Regions from separate parts of the Homo sapiens genome. Here region 2 is linked to region 1. Evidence: fine-mapped expression QTL. A gene starts in region 1. The other region holds a variant in brackets. All regions are shown on one strand. Distances are between the middles of the regions. Region 1 holds the start of FAM114A1 (family with sequence similarity 114 member A1). Region 2 overlaps FAM114A1 (family with sequence similarity 114 member A1).

Evidence for each region. PIP is the estimated chance that this variant, and not a neighbour inherited with it, causes the effect.
Region 2: its variant is fine-mapped to the expression of FAM114A1 in skin (TwinsUK, PIP 0.95).

Annotation. Positions count from the first base shown.
Region 1 is chr4:38,863,005-38,872,996 of GRCh38, forward strand. It overlaps FAM114A1 (family with sequence similarity 114 member A1), which reads left to right and starts at 4,802. Exons shown (of 15, transcript NM_138389.4): 1 at 4,802-4,830; 2 at 5,394-5,542. MIR574 (microRNA 574) reads left to right here and starts at 5,028; the gene lies at 5,028-5,123. It also overlaps a transcript of TLR6 not described here. RefSeq lists silencers at 4,566-5,045, 5,096-5,145 and an enhancer at 5,353-5,936.
Region 2 is chr4:38,903,014-38,913,005 of GRCh38, forward strand. FAM114A1 (family with sequence similarity 114 member A1) reads left to right here. Exons shown (of 15, transcript NM_138389.4): 5 at 2,509-2,622; 6 at 2,742-2,848; 7 at 5,579-5,713. Among named protein-coding and RNA genes, the nearest start is that of MIR574, 40 kb to the left of the region's middle. RefSeq lists an enhancer at 1,012-1,181. The variant A/G (reference allele first, on the strand shown) is at 6,096.

The DNA of each region.
Region 1 (9,992 bases):
CTCCTTGCAAGAGCTTTTACTGACTATCTCTAATTGTTCTCCTCTCATTCTCTTAAATGTACTTCAGTCAGGTTTCCTTCCCCACCGGTCAGAAGAAATAGCTCTTTTCAAGGTCACCAATGATCACCACATTGCCAAATCCACGGTCAATTCTCAATTTTTAGCTTCTTTGAACTATTAGCAGCGTTTAACACAGTTGAAAGATCCTGAAATGTTTTCTTGCCTGACTTCCTAGACCCCATATCCCACTCCCCACTCTCCCTTCCCTGAATTTCCTGCTAACTCATTGGCATTCCTTCCCAGTCTCCTTCTGGGTCCTCTTTATATCTCTGGCATGGAATACCCAAGACTTAGTCTTGGACCACATCTCTAACTCCATGCACTCTCATCCTGGTCCTTCAAACCAGGATGAAGTCCCAGACTTCCCTGAACTTCAGACTCACATTCAATAGCCTGCTAAATGCTTGCTAAACCATTACTGTTGCAAGCCAAATGCCTGAATCTTTACTACCTCTAACTCCAAACCTGCCCCCTCTTGCATCCTTCCTCATATCAATAAATGATATTTCTACTCTTCCAGTAGTGCAGACTAAAATCCTTGGAGTGATTAATGATTAATTTCTCTTTTGCTCAAACTCTACATTCAATCTATAGGCAAATTTTGTTGGATTTTTCTTTGAAATATGTCCATAAGCAAACACCTCTCATGTCCCCCACTACTCCCATGGTGGTCAAAAGCATCATCATCTTTCACCTGGATAACTGCAATGGCATCCTAACAGGTATGCCAGCCTCCATCCTTCTCTCCCCTCCCACCTTCACCCAATTCCAATATGACTAGAGTCAGATACTAGAATCATACTCAAAAGCCATAAGGGTGCCAGTCTCACTCAAAGTATAAACCAAAATCCCTCTGCCCATCTCTCAGCCTCCACTACCTCTATGGCCTCATTTTCTTCTACTCTTCCCCATCCTCCCTCTGCTCCAGCCACACTGGCCACCTTACCTTTCTGTGAATGCATCATCCATGCTCCCAAACTGCCTGAGACTGTCTACAGATATGGCCACTGTTCATTTCCCTACTTCCTTAAAGTCTACATTGCAATGCCACTTTATCAGTAAGGACTTCCTTGACCACAGTTGGTCCTACCCATCATTCCCTAAACCCTGTAGATTCTATAGCCTGCTTTACTCCACCACCTCATATAGACCCTCTAGTTAGGGTCTATCTCCCTTTCTGTGGAGTGTAAGTTCTTGAATACCAGGAGTTTGCTTTGCTTCTTTTGTACTCCAAGCACCTACAGCCGTATTTGGTACACAGTGCATGCTTTCAGAAAGGTTATGTTGAATAAATGGTTGACCCATAATGAAGGGCGACTCAGCAATGTCTAGTAAAGGGGAACCAGCTATTCCATTTTTTTCCTAGATACTAAAAAATATATTCAAAGGTGGCAATTGTAGCATTATATGTAATTGAGTGAAATATGAAGCACAATAAAGTAGATCAATCGGGAAATAAATTGTGGCATATTCATGCCCTCCTATGAAGACTTTGAAATGAATGTGCTAGAGCTACATGTGTGAATATGAATGATTCTCAAAAATATAATGCAAGTTAACAAGTGTACAGGATGTCCTTAATATTCTAAAACATTGAAAAACAATTATACGTGCATTTGTGGGTGAGGACATATGCAGCAAACATTTAGAAATATGAGTGAGGGGGGCTGTGCATGGTGGCTCACACCTGTAGTCCCAGTACTTTAGGAGGCTGAGGCGGGAGGATTGCTTAAAGCCAGGAGTTTGAGACCAGCCTGGGCAACACAGCAAGACCACGACTCTACAAAAAAATTTAAAAATTTGCTGGGTGCAGTGGCACCCTGTGATCCTAGCTCCTTGTGAGGCTGAGGCAGGAGGATTGCTGGAGCCCAGGAGTCTGAGGCCGCACTGAGCCGTCATCACACCACTGCACTCCAGCCTAGGTGACAGAGTAAGACCTCATTCCTAAATAAGAAAGAAAGAAATATGGGTGGGAGGGATATACAACCACCTCAAGAAAATGGCTACCTGCAGAGATGGTGGACAATGGAAGGGATAGGGTTTCAAACATATCCGTAACATTTTTTTCTTTGCAAAGAAAATTCTAAAATAAATACTGCAAAAAATTTTGTTAAATCTAGATATCATCATAGTATTTCCTATATTTTTTACACAAATAAGTATTTGTCATATTATTCTTTACTTTTCTATATATTTTAAATACTCCAGAAAATTTTTAAATGAACTTAAAATGTTTTACATTGCAAATAAATAAAATATCTGAAATAAAATCTGGTAGTCCTGGAAGCAGCTACATGAGTAAAAGGGACAAATTTGCAGTGGGCAAAACAAAAAACAAACTTGTTGCCAGGATAGTTTGCTTTATTTTCTTTATTGGATAGGTGTGGTTTGGGTCAAAGGAGAAGAGGAACTCAGCCCTTTAAAAAGAGAACATCTGATTGGGCTGTTACGGCACAGCAGGGAAGGGAAGGCAGGTTAGCAAAGGTGCTTGCTGTCTCTGGGCAGGAGCAGAAGTCCCAGGCACAGACGTCTGTGTATATGCTACACCAAAACACACCTGTTGCAACTGGAACATAATTTGATAACACTCGCAAAGCCAGAACTGGAAGGGACTGTGCCGAGCAATGCTCTTTATTTTAGAGGTGGAAAAACTGAGTTACAGAAGCCACGTGTTAGTTAAGGTTCAAAGTCTCGCTCAATTCAAAAAGGCTATTGATCTCAATTTAAAGCAGTTTCCACCCACTCTCACATTAAGATAACTTTCTGGTTTTTCTATGAATTTAAAAATGACAGGCTGGGTGTGGTGGCTCACGCCTGTAATCCCAACACTTTGGGAGGCCGAGGTGGGCAGATCACTTGAGGTCAGGAGTTCGAGACCAGCCTTGCCACCATGGCAAAACCCTGTCTCTACTGAAAACACAAAAATTAGCCGGGTGTGGTGGCACGCACCTGTAATCCCAGCTACTCAAGAGGCTGAGGCAGAAGAATCGCTTGAACCCAGGAGATGGAGATGGTGCCACTGCACTGCAGCCTAGGCCACAGATCAAGACTCTGTCCTCCTAAAAAATAAAATAAAATAAATATTCAGTAGCTTAAAAAATTATTAATATAAAAATATTTAATAAAAATATTAAATAAGAAATATAGCCAGGCACGGTGGCTCATGCCTGTAATCCCAGCACTTTGGGAGGCCGAGGTGGGTGGATCACCTGAGGTCAGGAGTTCGAGACCAGCCTGGCCAACATGGTGAAACCCCGTCTCTACTAAAAAATACAAAAATTAGCCGGGTGTGGTGGCACGCACCTGTAATCCCAGCTACTCAAGAGGCTGAGGCAGGAGAATTGCTTGAACCCAGTAAGCAGAGGCTGCAGTGAGCTGAGATCACGCCACTGCTTTCCAGCCTGGACGACAGAGCAAGACTCCATCTCAAAAAAATGAATTAATAAATTAATTAATATATATATGGAAGAAACTGGAATATAAGGAGCAAACTAATTGTCAATAGGAGAATGATTGAATGAAATATAATTACAAACATATTGCAATATATAAGACAAGTCTTAGAAGAGTGGTTTTGGTTGATATGTATTGACCAAGAAAGATGATTATAATATATAATAAATAGGGGGAAATTTACAAAATACGTCAACATCTCGCCATTTTTATAAAAAAGCAAACAAAAAGCTGTTTATGCATACATGTATTTATATAAGCTTAGAAAAACTATGGTAGGATCCACACACTATAAAAAATGGTAGTGATATTGAAAGGGAGAGACTAGGGCTATTTTTTCTTTAACTTTGAATTTATAATTCTTCAAAAAGAAGAAGGGATGGAGTGAGAGAGGAGAAAATCTGCCTTAAACACATCGCTCAGAAAGAATCACTATTTTTAAATTGTATTTCCTCCGACTTTTATAGAAAATACAAAATTGTTTACAAAACTAGTTAATACTATAAACACTGCGCTTCCTCCGCATCTGAGTTCATATTAAGCCATATTTGAGGAAGGCCTTCATATGTGGCCTTCCCTCCATGTCAACGAATCCTCATTTTTAAGGGCTACAACATATTCGATGTCTGAAGTTACTGTAGCTTACTTCACCAATCTTACTGGGGGACATTGAGATTGTCTCCGGCTTCCCCCCGCAGAAACAACTACAACAAACATCCTTGTACATACATATTTGCCCATTTGACTGCCTACTTAGGACAAATTCACAAATGTGGAATTCCTAGGCCAAAGCTAATACATCGGAGTTTTAACCCACAGCTCCAAACTGGCCTTCTGGAAAGTGGGTTTTCGTTGTTTGTTTGGGGTTTGTTTGTTTTAAATCTATCACACTCCCACCGACAGGGCAAGGGAGTGCTGCTTAACGCAGAATCAGGAGATCAAACTTTAGCTGAATTTGAGCGACCTCTTCCCAGTGACACGGCGGGGGGTTTTCCAAGCCCTTTTAAGGAAAGGAAAGGGATCTGGCGAACCCCGAGACCCACCCGCCCTGGGCTGGAGAGGCGGCGCGCTCTGGCTTTCCGCGCTGGCACAGGGGTGGGACAAGCCAAGTTTCCAGGAGACTCGCCCAGCGCGGGCCCGGCCCTCGCAGCGTGGGGGTGGCCGGGCGTCCCCGCGGCGCTCCTCGTGGGGCGGGGCGCAGGCGGGGCGGGGCCCCCTCTCCAGCCGCCCGCCCTCCGGCCGCGTCCCCGCCGGCCCTGCAGACGTGGCGGGGCGGGACCCGCTGGGCACTCCCGCGCGTACTCGGCCGCCTGAGCGGTAAGAGCCCCGGGCACTCGGTCCCCATCCCCTTCCCCGGGGGGCGGGCGAGCGCGGGGGCGGCTGCCCGGGGGTGGTGGGAACACCATACCTTGGCGCCTCGTCCGGGACCCACGAATCCTGCCCTCTGCGTTAGTGAGAAGCAGTGGTCAGGGAGGACCCGGCTCTGGGGTGAGGGTCTGGGGCGGCGCGGCCGAGGGACCTGCGTGGGTGCGGGCGTGTGAGTGTGTGTGTGTGAGTGTGTGTCGCTCCGGGTCCACGCTCATGCACACACCCACACGCCCACACTCAGGGTCTGCCCCCTCGGCCTGCGTGAACCTCCGCGGAGCCTGCCTGGATCTCCCAAAGTATCCAGTCCTGGCACCAAGCAAGTCTGGAAAAGTGCCCCCAATGGCTCGGGGCCAAGTCAGAGGTGGGCTGCAGGGTCCCCCAGCCCGGGCACGAAGGGAGCAGGTCCCTGTAAGACAGAGGCCTCGTCCCAGGGTGCGCCTGCCCTCGGCCTTGGCACAGGGAGCTCAGGCCTTGACCTCCCCGCTCCCCTCGCCTTACTCCTCCCCCAACAGCCGACCCACGCCCTGCCTGCTCTTCCAGTCCAGCCAACACTCTAAGCAGGCACCGCCTCCACTCGCAGCCCCCGGGATGGGTCCCACTCCCTACCGCAGATCCCCAGGCCCCCTCCACCCAGTCGGCTAGCCCTCGCCTCTGCCATCCGGTGAGTATTTCCAGGCACCTCAGACCAGGCGCCTGAACGTCACTGCCTTTTCTTAAGTAGGAAGACATCTCTCTATGGGCTGTGAGAGCATTACCTATGCCCTACTGATCCCATCATTTCCCATCCTAAACATCTTGAAGGACACAGGCAGGTGGCTTCTTAAATCAGTGTGCTCTGAACTCCCTGTGACCTCAGCCAACCTGTGACAACTGAGAATGAGACAGGCTCTATCCTCAGAGCCTCTTTTTGCCCTCTCTGCAGCCTAGTGGCTCCTTCCCTACCCCACCCATAGGCCTGCGTCCCCGCCCTCCTTTCTTCCATCAAGCCTGAGCTTGGGAAAGAATCTGATAAACTTCTTACATTGTAACCTTTAAGTGAAGGAATGAGACGTTAGGGATGGATTTGAGGCACAAGTGAGACAGTGCAGAAGGAATTTGAGGGTTGGAGGGGGCTTTCTTGAATCTGAGCGATTCAGACCATAAAAGTAAACTTGTCTTTGTTTATTTGACCAGGCTTACATCAAACATGGTTTCTCTTTTATTAATATCAAACACAATGTATTTCAATTCAGTAAATATCTGAGGGACAGAAACCAACCTAGGTGCTGTTGGTCACAGTCTTGGAGGACAGAATGGCAGAAGTAAATACTCCATAAATACATGGAATAGAAATCTGTGCAAAGTGCCAAAAACATAGAAGAGGTAGCAGTTATTTCATTGGAAGCAGTGGGGCAGATTAAGGAAAAATTCAGAATGAAAGGTAACATTAGACACTGGGTGTCTAGAGGAATAGGAGTTTGCCAGGCAGCTGGAGGAAGGGCAGCACCGGGGCAGAGGAACCAGCGTAAGCAAAGGCAGGGAGATGTGAAGAGTTATGGGGAATGGAGAAAAGACTGGTGAGGCAGGAGTGGAGGATACTGAGAGTTGCAAGAGGTGGAGAGAGATTGGAGCTGGATTATGATGGGAAGTGTGAAGATATTTACACCTAATGGTTTTTGAACAGGAGAGCAAATAGGTCCAAAAATGCCTGGCAGCCTCACAGAGAATAGGCTGGAGCCTGGGTACGTAGACTTGTCAAGCTTTATACAAACTCATACAAACTGCTACAACCTGATTAAGAGCCTCTCATCCAGAGTTTTTATTCCTGGTCCTTCGCTGACTGGCACTGTTTTTGTTTTTTTTTTTTAACTGGGGGAGATGACCTCACACAGGATATCATGCTAACCAAATTTTTATGCTGCCAAGTCAGGCCATTTTTTTTAAAAAAATCCATCCACTGTCACTATTTCATAAAATGAAAGACATTTTAATACCAAGAAAAAGCACAAAGGCTAAACTTGAAAGATGAAGGCAGTCCTTTACATTTAATAAATTTAGATTTATGAAAAACTTGCAATCTTGTCCTCATTTTTCTCTATCATCACAGACTTGCCCCAGTCCTGCAGGTGGAGTTTGGAAAAAAAAGCATCCAGATCAGTTTGTCCATCCTAGCTTTACAGAGGAGCAGGTGTAAGCACAGTGAGGATCAAGTTGTGTGCCCACAAAGGGATACTGGGACCAGAGGCCACATCCCTTGACGCCTGCAGGACACAACTCTTTCCACCTCAGAATACCATCGCTCCCACCTCTCATCATTCCTCCATGCAGCCTCATGTCCTGGCCTCTCAGACACCTGTCCTGAATCACTACAGTCCATCGCTGATGCTTGGACATTTGCACATGCTCTCATCCCACCAGGCCTGAATCACCACATCAAAGACACTTTCAAGATTCTCCCTTGCACAGGGTCAGTCTAGTTCAGGCACATCTGTCCTTGATTTGCTGTGCTGTTTTGCATCACTTTTTAACTGTTTTGTGTTAGCTCCTCAAACAGATGATTGATTTCTGAAGGATAGTGACCATGTCTTCTGTTTTATACTTATTTTTGGAGCTGTGATGTTGCTGCTTAAATACCTTGCATAGTTCTGGGAGCATTTTAGGTGATGAATGAATTTACTCACGAAAAACTAACTTATTCCCAGCCCACAAAGGCTTCTTTATATGCCACCCTTCCTCTCCTTAGAGTTTCCTGAAGCAGCCTCCTTGTTTCTGTGGGTTGAGTCTCCCTAGCCTCCAGTCCACGAGACATGGCTACAGTGATCAGTGTTCCTAACCATAAATCAGGAAAGGTTTCTAAGTCTGGCTTATGGAACACCCAGACGGAGATGGAAACCGTCCCAGGAAACACAGTGCTTGTCATGACTGTAATCCTGGTGGACTCCAGCAGCCCCTGCTCAGAAACAGTTCTGTATTTCAAACACACAGTTTCTAGTGGTTTCATACAAAAGGGTATAGTCTGAAAAATGATTACATTTCCCCCATCATGATAGCATCCACAGTCGATAAAGTTCTACCAGAACAACCAAACAAAAAATAATTTTTTTTCGTTTTGATTTGGGGAAAATTAGACCTGTAACAAGTAGAGATAAATATGGATTAGAGATACACACAATTAGAAATTGAATTAGAGCTGATCTTGCATGGCTTTCTTTTTTTTCTTTCTTTTTTTTTTTTTTTTTTTTTGCGACAGGGTCTCACACTGTCACCCAGGCTGGAGTGCAGTGGCATGATCCTGGCTCACTGTAGCCTCTGCCTTCCAGGTTCAAGCAATTCTCATGCCTCAGCCTCCAGAGTAGCTGGGATTACAGGCACATGCCACCATGCCCAGCTAATTTTTTTGTATTTTTAGTAGAGACAGGATTTCACTCTGCTGGGCAGGCTGGTCTGGAACTCCTGGCCTCAAGTGATCTGTCTGCCTTGGCCTCCCAAAGTGCTGGGATGTGAGCCACTATGCCTGACCGATGACCATTTTTAAATTTAACAGATGTAAAGATCTAGTATTAATAAAATTTATAAATTATCCATAAATATTTTAAACAATAATCTATAAATATTTTAAATAATAATCCATAAATATTTTTTGACAATAGTCCATAAATATGTTTTAACAATGCCTGTTTAACATCTTACAGCTGAGTTTCTGGGGTATTTCTGAAGGGATGGTTTGTGTTGGTTGAATGCAGAACAGCCACAGAGAGGAGTTTTACTGCAGTACTTTTTCTACATTTGGGATAAACTGACCTAAGGTAATTTGGCCATCAGAGATAGGTAAGGGCTCTAGGTTTCCTCCTCTGCAACTTCCCTACCAAGAGTTAAATTACCATGAATCCAAGTTCACTGATGGAATTCTGCCATAAACCCACACATGTATTAGCAAACAGGCTTAGTTAACCAGTCTGTTCTTATAAGCTCAAGGAAGTCCTAGCTCACTGTCCTTTTAGGCCTGTGTTCTAGAGGCAGGACTCAACTAAGCTTCTAGTCACCTTCAGGCTTTGGAGTCCTGCATTCAGCTAGAGAACCTAGAAGAACGCTACTCCAAAGGGTAAGTCAGCTGCTGGATTCAGTGCAATCTCATGTCTTGGGTATAGAAGCAGAGAAGGCACCTGTACGTTATTTCTTGTCGATCCACATACCTGAGGCATCTTTCATGTCACCAGTGAAAAATTATTTCTCATATCCCTTATGCTAATTAGCATACCCTGGAGTGCCCATCAGAGAAGACGGTAGATGAACCCTCTAAAAAGAGGTGGTCACCTCATTACGGATTTTTAAGTGCTTACTAAAGACCCCTGGATAGTATATTCCTGAATAAGGCACTTCAAATGTCATCCAGCCACCCTTAGGGCACAAATTAAAACTAAGTAACATGCACGTGTCACATAGTATATGCTGAACTATTTTAGGATACTTCATGAACAAGATAACAACACATGAGGGCAAGGCTTGTACATTTAGGCATCCATAATGGTTTTTATTTACCCATAAGTGTTTATCACAGCCAGATTTACTCTGATGTTCCTGCTTATAGAAAACTGAAATATTTTGGGACTTCCTAATAATCCAGATTAATAATAAGGATTTTCAAATTACCTTACAAAGAAATAAAAATATCAGACAATGTCTACCATCTACCGATTTAAAAAAATGAGAATAAAAGTGATGGCAAGGTATCATTTATTCATGAACCCATTCTCCTCATTGTTGTGTCCATACGACTCATGTGAGGATAATAAATTAAGACAGGGAAATCTTTAGGCCATGGCAATCAAGCAAAGTCCTAGGCCATGGGTAAGCAGACATTTTCGGAAACCGGCCAGATAGTAAATATTTTAGGCTTTGTGACTTTGCAGCCCATATGGCCTGTGTTGCAATGACTCAGCTCCGCTATTGTAGTGCCAGAGAAACCATGACGGTCCCATATGTAAACAAAGGGTGTATCTCTGGTCCAATAAAACTGTGTTTACCAAAACAGGCAGAGGACAAGAGTTGGCCAGCAGACTGGTTTGCCAACACCCTGTCCTAGGCTAGTCCTGATTCAGAGAGAGGTTTTCACAAAGATTTTGTAAACTTCC
Region 2 (9,992 bases), 40 kb after region 1:
TTATTTTTTGTTTCTTTTTTTTTGTAAAGCTGAACTTTATATTTCTGGTAGAATGCAGTAAAAGGGTACTTTCCCTAACAAAAAATTCAGAAAAAGAATTGTTAATAAGAAAATGTAGTTGGAACAGCAGCCTATTTTGATGTCTGTTAAATAGATAGATCCCATTTACATGCACATAAAATCGTATTTCCTTCTAGTAACAAAGTGATTTTTCTAGAGGCAGCTCGTGTATACATATCTGTGATCGTTTATGTTCTGAGATGGCGAGAAGCCATTCTTCCTGCAAAAGGAACCAGACATTATCCTAACCTGCAAGGGACGGAGAAGGTGAAAGAAGAGATACTGAATATGAGTTTCATTATCTCCTGAAACAGTCTCAGGGAAGGATGTGTGATCATCTTTCTTGAGTGGCTTAAGCAAAGAAGACAGAGAAGATGGTGCCTCCCAGCCTCCTTGACCTCATTTTTTTCCTTGATTTTGGCTCTCAGAAATCTAGACGAGAATCATAGGTTGAGATTTGGAGGCACATTATTTCCTTTTGGAAAATGCATATATATATATTTAATGGCAGGGAAGTTGGACTCAGTATGTAAAAGAGTAAGATATTCTATCCTCTAACTTAAATGTGTTATTGAAACTTCAATAAGTTTCCATTGAAATGCTTGAAATTCATTGGACGCTAGAGATAATTAATTCAAGCCTTAACAGTCGCAATACACCTTTATTTTTTCAAGTAACTCAGTAATTAATTTGAACTGTGTCTAATGATCTGCACATGACTATAAACACGTATTTCTATATGTGATTACAGTTGTAAATAATGTTTACATTTCAGGGTTTTCTAGGTAGTGTATAAGGACAGGTGATTTCCATTGGACATAATTCCTTCTACATTTGTCAAATATCAGTGCCTTGTTAATGCTAAGATCACTAGGATAAATAAGGTTACAACTGCTAAAATGCTACTCTTTAGGTTTGGGAGTCATCCATGTGTTCCCCTTTCTTATTCAGGAAATGGGCAATTGGTTATTTTAACAGTGCCTTCTAAGACTAGGTGGTTCTAGTTAGCTCTCAAATTCTGTTGGGACTTGGGACGTTTTTCCTCATATTACTGCCTTGTGTTTTAGCAACCTGAGGTCACCCAGGTCCCGAGAGAAATCTTTCATTTTCTCCGTGAGTGCTCGGGGGATGGGGAGTTCTGTGATGATGGCAGCCTGTGCTGTTTCTCCTTCAAGAAGTCAGACAGCCACTTTGGACCATCCGTAGGCTATTCATTCCTTCAACAGTTTGACAACTCAGAAAAGCTATAGCTCATCGTGAAGGCCTCAAAGGGAGGAAAATCTCTCCAGAATAAAATGTAGACAAGACTATGTCCGTATCAGGTCAAAGGTTGGGGTTTTTCCCTGTGGGTAGGAAGGTCAGCTCTGTATTTACCAAATAGTTATTGAATAACCGCTCTGCCTGGCTCAGGGAACAAGGGTATTATCCCTGCTTAGATGGAGTAAAACCTGTGCTCTTCGCCTGCCTGACTGCTGTTAAGGTTGATTTATATCATTATTAAGACAACTGTCGGGGCTGTTGGGTGGCCTTCCTGGTTTCTCCACTGACTTGCCTTTTGATTTTTGGATGTCAGCTCCAGGACCTTCACTCTCCATGCCTAAAGGAAGGCCTAATGCTTTAAAGAAACATTCTGAGGCTCAGGTGATTTCAATCCAACCAATATTAATTGATCATCTGCAATGTGCTAAGCCTGCAAGGAATCAAAAAAATGAATGAAGAATATCTTCCATAAGGAGCTTACAAAAGAGTAAAGAGGATGAGACAGGTACACTATACAAAGACTGTGTTGAGCTTAGAATTCCAGGTTGATAGCTAGGTGGTGTGAGAAGCAAAAGCAAACAGTGAAGCATCCGGGAGCACTTTACCTACGTGTATCTCATTTGCACGTCACAATAACTCAATGAGGAAACTGAGTCACAGAGAGGCTAGGTAACTTCTCCAAGGTCATTCAACCAGGCAGGGGTGAAACTGAGCTCATATTGGAACCCACATCTCAGGGAGCAGGGATTCCTCTTTCTTTCAATCAGGATGTACTTCTACAGGCCAGGTGCGATGGCTCACACCTGTAATCCCAGCACTTTGGGAGGCAGAGGTGAGCCAATCACCTGAGGTCAGGAGTTCAAGACAAGCCTGGCCAACACTTAGTGAAACCTAGTCTCCACTAAAGGCACAAAAATTAGCCGGGCGTGGTGGTGTGCATCTGTAATCCCAGCTGCTAGGGAGGCTGAGGCAGGAGAATCACTTGAACTCGGGAGGCGGAGGTTGCAGTGAGCCAAGATTGCACCACTGCACTCCAGCCTGGGTGACAGAGCAAGACTCCATCTTTTAAAAAAAAAAAAAAAGAAAGATGTACTTCTGCAACTTGAAACAGCTTTGTAAGATTTGGTGGAGGATTTGCAGACCGTGGATTTCTAATGTATCCATGAACCATATTTTTATTTCCAACAGGTCATGGATTGACGGCAGTCAAGGAAAAAGCAGGAGCCACTCTACGGATTCATGGTGTAAATTCTGGATCTTCTGAAGGAGCCCAACCAAATACTGAAAACGGAGTCCCTGAAAGTGAGTGATGTGTCTCCTCTGGGTGTTCTTGGACTTTATTACACCATGTGCATAATCAGAGGTTTTCCAAGTTCAGATCAGCGACGTGAACTCTTAAAGGATTTCTTTTTTCTCTTTAGTAACAGATGCAGCCACAGATCAGGGCCCTGCAGAAAGCCCACCCACTTCCCCTTCATCAGCCTCTCGGGGTATGCTGTCTGCCATCACCAATGTGGTTCAAAACACAGTGAGTCGCTGGCTGCTTCCTCTCTTTCCCCTGTATTTCCCAGGGCCTTCTTTTGATATTTCCATTTACCAGTGACCTAGATACATCAGAGAAACGATGGCCTTGCTCAGAACTTTGGATTATGGTTTTTTTTTTAATGTTTTCTGCTACAAAGTAGACGTAACCTTGGATTCAAAATAATAAGGGCAAAATGAAATATATTTTATGTTTAAAAGAAGGGAGCTGTTTGGAAGGAACATTTTTCAGTCTGATTTAACAGTGTCCTTTCCAGCTGCGGCAAGGACAGCCTCTGGTTGAGGGGAGAGAGAACTCTTTATCAGAGCTGGGACAGCTGTTTTTCCTAAATGCTCTGCTTATCTTATCCCTGAGTTTGAAAAAGCATTAAACCGTTTAAATAAAAAGTACCCGTTACAAGACAGGAAAAACAGCCCAAATATGTTTCTGAAGTGTTTCCAGAGACCAGCGTTCTTCCCCCATCCCTACCTCTTCATTCCCACCCTTCCTCCTCCTTACACCACCCTAAGTGTATCCCCCTAGATCCCTGCCTACCTCTTAGAAGAAGCTCCATATTAGCAGCAAAACATTGGTGAATAATGAAAAAAGGGGAGGCACCTCAACTGAGATAAGGCAGGTAGCTGGTCATCAGGGTCAGGGAGCAAAGATTTATTTTGTTTTTTCTTTTGTTTTTTTGAGATGGAGTCTCACTCTTGTCACCTAGGCTGGCGTGCAGTGGTGCAATCTCGGCTCACTGCAACCTCCGCATCCCTGATTCAAGTGATTCTCCCACCTCAGCCTCCCAAGTAGCTGGGATTACAGGTGCCCACCACCACACCCAGCTAATTTTTGTGTTTTTAGTAGAGATGGGGTTTCACCACGTTGGCCAGGCTTGTCTTGAACTCTTGACCTCAGGTGATCCTCCTGCCTCGGCCTCCCAAAGTGCTGAGATTACAGGTGTGAAGGTGTATTTCTTACTATGTAAACTAACTAGTTTTTCTAAAAATATGGCTCGTGTCTCATTTAGTCATTCATTCATTCATTCATTCATTAAAAGAAAAACAACAACACAAACATGATTAGCCCTCACTATGTTCCAGTATCTATGCTAGATCTTGGATATATGCTGGCAAACAAGAGGGCACAATATCCCAGAGGACTGAGGCGACTGAACAAATAAACACAATGTAATTCGGGAAGAGGTGAGGGCTGCGGTCAAACATGAGAGGATCTCACCCAGACCTTGGGGTCAGGACATGCCAGAAATATAGAAAATGACTGGTCTTCTCCTTGCTATTTGAGGACCTCTAGACTGGGGTGGGGGAAGTAAGGAGGAGCAGCAAATCTGTCTTAGGAGTCAAGTAGCAATACAAGTCAACCACCCCCGTGGGGGGTTTGTAGGATGGGAGATGGATGGAGCTCTGTCAGTACCTCTGGTATAAGAAATGAATTCACGGCCTATCTGAGCTACCAAGAGGGCACTATGAGTTTGTCTTCAGCAGCCTCACATTCCTTTCTGTGTTCTCTCCAACCTTCTTGACCCCTTTTTCCCAAGTTCCAGACACTACCCCTCCAAGTCTATCCTTAACACAAATCCCTGTGTCCTTTCTTCCACCATTTTATTCTCAATAAAATAATTTTTCATAGGATGTTAGCAGGCACTAAGTCAAATTACACAGAAGTGTGAATTGCTGCTGTCCCATCATCCCCCCGAAGTGTGCGCACTGAAAACTGATTTACAGCATGATTACTGGTTGGCTCCCAAATCTAAAAACAAAGTCTAAATACCCAAGATGAAAATAAAGTATATTAATTCTATGAAATTAAATACTTCTATTTAAATGATAATTATGAAGATTGGAAAATGCATATCAGTAATAATATCATAATAAAATACAATTTATATCATTTTTATATATGGTGGGGAAAAACACAGATGTATGCATATTATAATTGCAGTTATACAGTTGGAGTGTAAGTATGAAAGAGTTGCAAAGACATGTATGCAGTTCTGTTCACTTGAATAGTTTATGTGTGAGTAAGTCTGGGTTATTTTAATTTTTTAAAAAAAGCAACAATGACTGACAAAGGGATTTGCAGGAGGATAGCTATATAATACACCAGTTTCTAAAGCCAGAAGTACAAGGAAATCAACCTGTCTCATTTCATGGATATACTAATTATAGGCAGTTATTGCTAGTTTCTGAGAGTATGCAAGAACCATCTGAAACAGCCTGAGGGTCTTACCCTCCAGGGCCCTAGATTAAAGAATTCCCTAAATTAGCAGGACTGTTTGACATTTTAATAGACTGCTCCAAGCAACTCTGTTACTTGGGTTAAAAAAATTTTTAAACAGAAACAGCAATTTATTTTATGTTAATTTTATGTCTTAGCAATTTATTTTATGTTAATTTTATGTCTTAGATACACATCCATTCATACACAGAGAGCCAGTAAAATTAATCCCTTTGTGGGATTAATTTTATTTTATGTGCTTTGGTTTTTTTCTAAGCATCAGTCTTTAATAACATTGTATGTCCTACAAATTATATAACATATGCTTTTCCAAGGAAACGAGAATAGGATTAAATGGATGATAAATCTCCTGATGAGAAAAAATTGTGACTTTATATTGATTTTAATATTTGAAGATAGTGCCAGTTACCTAGGAGTTGCTGACTGCTGCGAAACAGCAAAACCTAAACATCTAATCTCATGCAGTTATCTCATCTGCAGGGTAAAAGTGTCTTAACTGGAGGCCTTGATGCGTTGGAATTCATCGGCAAGAAAACCATGAATGTCCTTGCAGAAAGTGACCCGGGCTTTAAGCGGACCAAGACGCTCATGGAGAGAACTGTTTCCTTGTCTCAGGTTGGATTATATACGTTTGCAATTTTTTCTTTCAGTCAATAAAGTAAATAAATTTTTTATTTATCTTTTTGAATAGCTCATTTAAAGCATGTGATTCAAATCAAATGACACCAAAGAGCAGAGAGAGAAAACTGAGCTTCTAATACCCCCATTTCCCCAGTCACTTAATTCCTCAGAGGAGACAACCAGTTAACAGTTCCTTAAGGATTCTATCAGAGACCGCAGAGAGATATGGATATAGATCTATAGATGCAGCTATACATAAATATACAGATGTAAAAGTACATATGTATGCATGTGGATAGACATGCACATAAATACACACATATTTTTTCAACCCAGTGGTAACATACTAAACACACTCTTGTTCCTTGCTTAATTC[A/G]CTTAATATTATTTCTTGAAGATGATCCATTTATGTCATGGTATGCATCCCATCTCTACCACTTAGTAGCTGAGTGACCTTGGGCAAGTTACTTAGCCCCTCTGTGCCTCAGCTTACTCATCTGTACACTGGGGATAATTTAAATACCTACCAATAACTTTGTTGTGAGGATACGCTGAGTTAGAATAGAACCCAGCTCTTAGTAAGCATTCAGAAATGTTAGTTGTTGTCATTGCCGTTATTATGTGTCGGTATAATAGGTGGAAATGGTATCTCATTGGAATTTTAAATTCTGTTTCTCTTGATATGTGCAAGGATGGTCTTCTCCTCTCACACTTCCAGCACTAAAGTTTTCCAGCCCTTCTTGCAAAACATAAAACAAAGAATTCAATCTGTCTTTGCTTACTTACAATAGTTAAGAAAATTGGAAATAATATTAGTCTTGTTTTCCAAATATGACTCTAATATTAAACTTACTTTTCCAGATGGAACATGCCTAGCTTACCCCACAATCCAGGCATGCCCCAGTCCACCTCCTCCACGAGAGACTGATACACCAGGTCTCTGTGCTTTCCTGAAATCAGAAGCAGCTGATGCAGCAGTGGATTTTGTAAACGTCACAGGCAGGACTTGGTACTAGGAACCCATGAAGGTTGCCTTCATGAACAGCTATCACTGAGAATATGTTCATGGCAACCCCTAGAAGCTTTTGTTTTAGGCTATTTCTTCTTGTCTCTTCTGGAATAACCCAAGTATGAGCACTCCGATGTTATAGTCCAGGGAGGGACTTTGCAGGATCATCTAGACCATCACCCTGCTGCTCCTTGAAAAAGAAAATAGATGGCTGGGCACAGTGGCTCATGCCGGTAATCCCAGCACTTTGAGAGGCCGAGGCGGGCAGATCACCTGAGGTCAGGAGTTCGAGACCAGCCTGGCCAAGATGGTGAAACCCTGTCTTTACTAAAAATACAAAAAAAAAAATTAGCCGGATGTGGTGGCGAGCACCTGTAATCCCAGCTACTCGGGAGGCTGAGGCAGGGGAATTGCTTGAACCAGGGAGGTGGTGATTACAGTGAGCCGAGATTGTGCCACTGCACTCTAGCCTGGGCAATAAAGCAGGACTGCATCTCAAAAAAAAAAAAGAAGAGAAAGGAAAATAGATTAGTATTAGTTAGGTAATTAGCACTAGATGTCATGAAAGAACAACCACCCCTAAGTATCAGTGTGGCTTAGAACAAAAAGGTTTACCTTTCGCTCTCACAAAGTGCAGCATGAATATTCCTGCTCACACAGGAGCTCGTCCCAGGGGGCTCTCATGGCTAGCACACTTCTGAGCCCACATCTTCTGGCCTCATCATCTTGAAATGCCTTACTTCCAGCCTCACAGAGAGGGGATGTGGAAGGCAATATCTGGTATTTCAGAAAGTGACGAGCGAGTGCCATGGGGAAAAAGACAAAGTAGAACAGGAAGAGGTGATGAGGAATCAGAAATGTGGGTGTGAGGGGCAGGCTGAGTGTTAAGTAGGATAGTGAGGGGGCCTTGGGCAGATGATGACATGTGAGCAAATCCTTGAAGGAGATGAGAGCATTGGCCATGCAGGAACCTGAGTAAAGCTCATTCCAGGCCAAGGGAGAACTCACGCAAAGGCCCTGAGTCAGGAGTGTCTGGCATGAACACAGAACAGCAGGATGCCCGTGATGGAGAGGAGTGGGCTCCGGGCGAGAGCTGTTGAGGAGGACATCAGAGTGGTGATAGGGAGTAGGTGATAGCAGATCATGGCAGACATTCGTAAGGACCTTGGGTTTGACTGTTAGTGAAATGGGGAAACCATTGCAGCATTTTGAGAAAAGAAGTGACAGAATCTGATTTGTGCTTTAACAGGACCACTCTGGTTCCTGGGTAGAAAATTGGCTGGGAGGACCAAGGGCAGGGAGACTGGTTAGAGTGACTATCAGTCTGTGCCCTCCCAGAAACAGACACCAAGATGGGCTTAAACATGCAAGGATTTCATTAGGGGAAGTGCTTGTGTGAGAGAAAATGGGGAGGGAGCCCAGGAAGGCTGGGAGAACCATTAGACCAGGATGCCGGTCCCACCCCAGTGAAGAGAAGAGGGTGAGAAAAATGGGTGAAAGTGTCCCAGACTGCAGTGCGGCATGGGAAAGGCTGGGCGAAGCCATGGGAAAGCCCTTCAGCCAAAGGCTGCTGACAAAGGAGACCTCATCTTCCAGGAACAGGTCTGCCTTAGTGCCCTGCTGCACCAGTGATTGACAGGGAAGAGCTGTGGGAGGCTGAAGGCTGGATTTCGAAGTCCAGCATTTATGCTCCCAGGAGTAGGAGGGAGGTCTGCAGGTTGCACTGTCACACCCTCCACTGGAGGCAATTGCACTTTCAATTGCTGTTATCTAAACAAGAGATAATGGTGGCCCTGTGCAGCATGGAGGCCTTGTAGGTAGTGAGGAATGGCTGATTCTGGCTATAATTTGAAGATAGATCCAGATCGCTTGTTGGAATGAATGTGAGCTGTGAGATAAAAGCAGTTGTCAGGGATGGCTCCAAGGTCTTTCGGACAACTGGAAGGATGAAGCTCACATATTTTTCCTTTACACACTAAAGAAATATATAACTATGGAAACTAGAAGCGTGCACGCGTGCACTACCTACATTTCTCACGTATTTTTATCCTAGTGGCACAGGGAATACTCTTTCTTTTTCTTTCTTTCTTCTTTTTTTTTTTCTTTTTTTTTCTTTTTTCTTTTTTTTTTTTTTTTTGAGACAGAGCCCTCACTCTGTCGCCCAGGATGGAGTGCAGTGGCGCGATCTTGACTCACTGCAACCTCCGCCTCCTGGGTTCAAGCAATTCCCCTGCCTCAGCCTCCTGAGTAGCTGGGATTACAGTGTGCACCACCACGCCCGGCTAATTTTTGTATTTTTAGTAGAGACGGGGTTTCACCATGTTGGCCAGGCTGGTCCCGAACTCCTGACCTCAAGTGATCCACCCTATTTGGCCTTGAAAAGTGCTGAGAGTACAGGCATGAGCCACCGCACCCAGCCAAGCGCAGGGAATACTCTTTAAATAACACGGGGACAGGGGGTCCTTGGATTCCACACATGGAAGTCTCCATAGCTTCTCTGTGTCAGGAATTCTTCCAGGCCAGGATCATTCCCTGCTATTGAAACCCACTTCCCTTTCTTCTCTAGTGGGAAAATAGAACCAGCCTCCGTTGTCAAGCTGGTTATCCCTCAGGCAGCTTTAATTTCACTCCCCAGTTGTGTTTTGTTTGTTTGTTTGTTTTGAGATGGAGTCTCACTCTGTCACCCAGGCTGGAGTGCAATGGCGCAATCTTGGCTCACTGCAACCTCCTCCTCTTGGCTTCAAGTGATTCTCCTGCCTCCCTCCTGAATAGCTGGGATTACAGGTGCCCGCCACCATGCCCAGCTAATTTTTTGAATTTTTAGTAGAGACAGGGTTTCATCATATTGGCCAGGCTGGTCTTGAACTCCTGACCTAGTGATCGGCCCACCTTGGCCTCCCAAAGTGCTGGGATTACAGGCGTGAGCCACCGCGCCTGGCCTACTCCCCAGTTTTGAGTGAGTCCACATCTTTCCAGAGTGACCCTTTCCCTTTCTCTTCAATTTCATCCCTTCTTTTTTCTCTCCCGAAGCCCACATTCGGAGGTGGAAGCTGGTGTAGAGAAAGGAAGTGATTTCAGTGTCACTTTGTTATTTTATTTTACCACCACCAAGTCCTGAGATCAGTGCGGGTAATTAGTTTTTATTGCCAGTGTTAAAATTTTCCAGTGATGGTTTCATTGGGTTGTTTGAAAAACTTTAAGATTCAGAGTCTGTGCTAATTTAGTCTTAAAGACAGACAGGAGAGAGAATTCTCTTTGCGGCCC